Regions from separate parts of the Homo sapiens genome. Here region 1 is linked to region 2. The links come from fine-mapping of genetic effects on gene expression. A gene starts in region 2. The other region holds a variant in brackets. All regions are shown on one strand. Distances are from middle to middle. Region 1 overlaps IQCJ-SCHIP1 (IQCJ-SCHIP1 readthrough). Region 2 holds the start of SCHIP1 (schwannomin interacting protein 1).

Evidence for each region. PIP is the estimated chance that this variant, and not a neighbour inherited with it, causes the effect. A credible set is the group of variants that fine-mapping cannot tell apart.
Region 1: its variant is the best candidate, but not a certain one, in a credible set for the expression of SCHIP1 in lung (TOPMed, PIP 0.81).

The regions. Positions count from the first base shown.
Region 1 is chr3:159,832,716-159,835,215 of GRCh38, reverse strand. All of the region lies in intron 4 of IQCJ-SCHIP1 (IQCJ-SCHIP1 readthrough), which reads right to left. The region is part of intron 2 of SCHIP1 (schwannomin interacting protein 1); the gene reads right to left. Among named protein-coding and RNA genes, the nearest start is that of IQCJ-SCHIP1-AS1, 65 kb to the right of the region's middle. The variant C/T (reference allele first, on the strand shown) is at 1,354.
Region 2 is chr3:159,271,627-159,274,669 of GRCh38, reverse strand. SCHIP1 (schwannomin interacting protein 1) reads right to left here and starts at 1,426. Exons shown (of 8, transcript NM_014575.4): 1 at 787-1,426. The coding sequence starts at 849. The region is part of intron 4 of IQCJ-SCHIP1 (IQCJ-SCHIP1 readthrough); the gene reads right to left. RefSeq lists a silencer at 743-943.

The sequences.
Region 1 (2,500 bases), 560 kb before region 2:
TGTTACTACTCTGTTCAAATTGAAATGTTAGAAAAAATGAAGTATTGGGGGTGGGAAAGATGGGCAGGGAAGTCACCATCTTAAGTAATAACTTTTAAGCTTTTCCTCAGGAAATTGGGGAAAGCAAGTAGACATATAGCTTAAGTTGTACTTCTTTACTGGGCAATGAAAGAAAAGGAATGACGAGAAAAATTAATACTGTGGATATCAGGGAAACTAGGTCCTTGAATGCCGCACCCAAAGAATTACTTGTCACTACAGGTTGAGTAAACCTTATCCACAATGCTTGGGACCAGAATTGTCCTGGATTTTGGAATATCTGCATATGCATAATGAAATATCTTAGGGATGGTACCCAGGTCTAAACACGAGATTCATTTTTGTTTCATATGCACTTTATACACATCACCTGAAGGTAATTTTATACAATATTTCATAATAATTTTGTACATGAAACAAAGTTTTGACTTCATTTTGACTGCCACCTGTCACATGAGGTCAGGTGTGGAATTTTCTACTTGTGGCATCATGTCAATACTCAAAAAATTTGGGACTTTGCAGCATTTCAGATTTTAGATTTTGGGGTTGAGGAATGCTCAACCTGTATTGTTGCCACCAACAAAACTGGCATCATCTACAGACAATAAACCTTTAAAAATGCTTCGCAGAAACACAAAGTGTTTTCCTCAACATCTTCCTTGATTTTTGTAGTTGAAACAAGCTCCTATCATGTGCCATGTGAAGTAGTGTTTCTGCCCTCGAGAAGTTTGGTAAGAGAAATGAGGCAGTACACAAATGACTAGATATGACGAAGATGAGTTAAATGCCTCCGAATATTTTGTTTGCTCACTAGAAATTCAAGAGAAGAGAACGCTCAGCTAGAGTGAACCAGGAGACTGCAACAATCTTGTTCATTTGGTTATTCACTTATTTAATGTCTGTATTTTGTAGATCTAGATTAATGTGAATTTCCTTAGAACTTACATCTTGGTTGGTTTACTCAGTGCTATATCCCCAATGTCTGACATAGTACCTGGTTCTCAATAAATACTTTGAAACAATTGAATAAATGCATATGACCCTCATGGTAACATGATGAAATGGGAGTAATGTAAAACAGCTCTTACGTACTCAGGAAAGGAAGAGAAATGGATGTTTTCTTCTCCTAATTAAGAACAACATCAACTGTCCAAGGAATAGAGTCCTTTGGAGGATAGAGGAGATCATGGGAATGGAAGGGCAAAGACAGAGGGATGCATCCCAAGACACCAAAAAAGGAACTGATGGCACTTAGGCAGTGATCTACATGGGGGAGTGAGCAAGATAAGGAATTGTGAGGTTTTGAGACCATTA[C/T]TGGAGTAAAACTGGTGCTGTGAAAAGAAACAGGGAAGTTAGCAGAAGGAACTGATTCTGAGAGGGTTGGGGTAGAGTAAGGAGGTTTAAATTTTCATCATAAAATTCGCAGTTGAAGGTGTAAGAGGCAGCTGGAGCTTAAGAGAGATCAGGCTGACAGGTAGAATTTAGGGGTCTTTTGCACAGAGAGGACAGTTGAAGCTGTAAAAATGAATTAGATTAAGGGAGAGATTGTAGAGACAGAACTAAAGAGAAACAAAGACATCACTGTGGAAGGCACAATAATGTCCCCTGTCTCCTGGGTCAACTGTCTACAACCTAATCCCCAAGCGGCAAGGTAAAATTATGATAAGCAGCTGTCTTTGAGATGGGGAAAGTAGCCTGGTTATCCAGATGAGCTCAATGTAATAATCACAAGGGTCTTATAAAGTAAAAGTCGGGGAGGCATAAGAGAAAGAACCAGAGACGGCAGTATGAGAAAGGCTTGGTCCAATGTTGTTGTTGGCTTTGAAGATGGAAGAAGAGGCCACAAGCCAAGGAAGGTGGGCTGTCCCTAGAAGATGGAAAAGGCAAGGAAACTGATATTTCTCTAGAGCCTCCAGAAAGAATGCAGCTCAGTGGACACCTTGATTTTAGTCCAGTGAGACCCATTTAGGACTTCCAACTTTTGATATTATAATACCAATAAATTTGTGTTGATTTAAGCCACTAAATTTGGAAGACTTTGTTATAGCAGAAATAGAAAACTAACTCAGTAGTCCCTCCTTATCCATGTGGTATACATTCCAAGACCCCTAGCGGATGCCTGAAACTGAAGATAGTACTGAACCTTATACATACCATGTTTTTCCCATACGTACATATCTGTGATAAAGTTTAATTTATAACTTAGGCACAGTAAGAGATTAACAACAATAACAGGTAATAAAATAGAACAATTATAACAATATACTGTAGTAACAGTCATGTGAATGTGGTCTCTCTCTCAAAATAGCTTAATATTTTCACACCACAGTTGACCGATGGTAACTGAAACTAAGGAAAATGAGACTGCAGATAAGGGTAGGAAGCCCACATTTAGAGAGCAAGGGGATGCAAAGGAGACATAGTCAACAAAGTGAGAAGAGAATGAAAACTAACACAGTGA
Region 2 (3,043 bases):
AATTCAAAGTATTATTTCTTCGTTGGTTGTGTCATATAATAATATCATAGAACTACAAATTTGATAGTCTAAAAGATGGAGTTAAAAGATGTTTTTGAAGAAACCATTTTTTTTATTTCTGGTTTGAAGATTTAAATTGAACATTTTGAAACTAATTATTTTCAATAATGCTAAAAGTACTATTTCAATAGCCCATATATAATTTTATAAAATTGTCTGTTATTTCTACTTATAATAAGCTGCCACTCTATACATTTCATACCAATAAATTTGAGATTTTTTAAGTCATCAAATATCTCCCATGTATTGACATTAGAATACCTAGACATTTGTTCTTTTGGTAACTGAAAGTATAATCTAAATTGAAAAAGTTTAACACTGATCTTCCCAAACTGTACAAATCAGGAACTACTTTCCAAAGAGAGTCTTGTGCATACAAAGGGCAACAGATTGTACATTTGGAACTATTTACATGTGTATATTAAAATGCTATTTCCAAAGTCCACTGCAATGCAATTAGTTTTGGTGCACTACAAAAAAGAACACTCAAACTTAGATTCTCAAAATTCAAAGCACCAAATATCCACATACTAACTATGCAATGAGAAAGTATTTTTTTCAAATGAACATTCCAATATACCTTAAATGCTTAATTCTGAATTTAAAAATGTAATGAAGGCCATCAGCTTAAATTTAAAGTTACTTAGTTCGACTTTGAAGTTTTCTCTCTTCATTTGTAAAAATATGATACACCTAAAATAGATGGTAGACATTTGTAAAACTTACACTGTCAGAGTGCTTGCCCTGGTCACAGTCCCACGTTGTAACACGCTGCCCGGACCTCTCCATGGTGCTGAAGAGTTACTCTTGCCCATTTGAGAGGGAAGAGTTGTTTATTCAAATTGGCTTTGAAAGAAATCCGTAAAGGGTCACCTGGGTTAGCTAGTAAGGTTGTCTAAAAAATTTCTATAACACACACTAAATAAGTGATGCTTTTGCCCTTCGGTTATCAACCACCATGCTCAAGCAGCTCAAAGTAGATTTTGGAGCAGAAATCTTCAAGTATTGGCAAAAAAGAGCGAGAGCTTTTTGGGAGATGAAGTTTGCTGATTTTTGCCAGTGTTCTTCAAATTGATAAAACACACAGAGAAGACAAGGCTACTCGGAGAACAGAGGATTCCAGAAAAGTTCTTGATCTTAATGCAGAAAAGAAGATCCCATTAGTCCAAAGCAGCCGATTCACTTCATGCTATCATCTGATCTACTTTTCGATTAAAAATAATACAATAAAATAGAGTTAAGAATTCCACAAGGCACTGCACACACCATGTAAACAGGTCTGCCTCATTCTCGCCCCAGCCTCGGTCTGCTGAAGATTATCACAGCAGAAATCAGGCTCTGTGGCTTTCACAGATTATCTCTTTCTGAGGCTGAAACGTATAAAGAGCCACATGACACCCAATGATGTCATCTCTAAAGCAGGTCACAGTTGCTGCTGTATATAGATAAAGTCCTTCTAGTGAAGTATTTAGCATAGTGATTTTCTTGAAAATCTACTTATATTAAATAGCATGGTCTTCTATCAAAATACTTAACCCTATCGATACAGTGCCATGAAGAGAAAATCAATTTGCTGCTCATATGTGAGATGAAGCCTCCCCTTTAAGCTAAGATCAGCTTCTGGTACTGCTTTAAAAAATGAATAACTGCCATTAATTTGTGGTGAATATAGTGAAGAAGGGCTTTTCCCTGGAGAAGCTGCTGTGGGAACTAGAGGCTCTCTAAGGATATAGAATCTACTTCTAAACACCTCTCAGAATATTTAGCATGTCCAAAAATTATTTTTTAATTCAATCCATAAAGATTGCAAAATAAAAATTAAGGAAACCATCTTCAACTTCTAACAACAGTTTATGTAACAAAATTAAAAAGTTATATAAACATAAAAACATCTTACTATCTCTGAAACGATTGGAGTATATTTTCAAGTGTTGGTTAAAGAAAAACGTTCTTTAACTCACTATTTTTAGATGTTTTTCAGTTCTGAATAAAGTAAAAATAGAAAATTAGCTATATTATTACTAATCTGCACACCTAACTGGTAATTCATAGTACACATATTCTTTTAAAGAATGTTTAAATGAGCAATGTCCATGATCATTCTTTGCAACATATTTTTCTCTTTCTATTTAGTCATATGCCATAATTTATGATTTTCAGCCATAATTGTCATTTATGCCAGTTAATAAATTATCTAATCCCCTTTCATGCCAACTAAACAATTCTTATAGCCCAAGTGAAGAATAACTTGAAACTAATCTAATTAGTGCTTATTAAATGTATTCCCTCCCTTAAGGCCAAATGGATCAAACAAAAGCAGCTTTCCTTTAAGAGCACAGTATTCTGTCATATTTTTGAGAAAAAACCATAAATCTGAGGAGAAAACAATTTTCCACACAACCAGTGCCACTGAACAAATTCTATTAAAGCAATGGTGATTGTTCTGGCATCTCATCAGGAAAATATTGCCTCACCAGCTTCTCACCGCGTATCTAAAATATCCAAATAAAAATTGAGAATGCTAAAATATCCAAATAAAATATCCAAATAAAAATTTATTTGGATAAATTTTTATCCAAATAAATTTATGCTAAATATCCAAATAAAAATTGAGAAAAATATCCAAATAAAATTTGGAATATTTTATTCCAAAGGCTAAAATATCCAAAAAAAAATTGAGAAAAAAAATTGATCATCTAAATGTTCTGATCCACTTCAGTTTCCTAAATAAAGCAGATATTTTTGGTCAATTTCTACAGTTTAGTATTTTCTACACTTTAACAATGATGAAGATTATCTGGGGAATTTTTAAAAATTTAAAAGTCCCTGTAATCCCAGCACTTTGGGAGGCCAAGGCGGGTGGATCAAGAGGTCAGGAGTTCAAGACCAGCCTGGCCAAGATGGTGAAACCCCATCTCCACTAAAAATACAAAAATTAGCCAGGCGTGTAGTGGGCACCTGTAATCCCAGCTTCTCAGAAGGC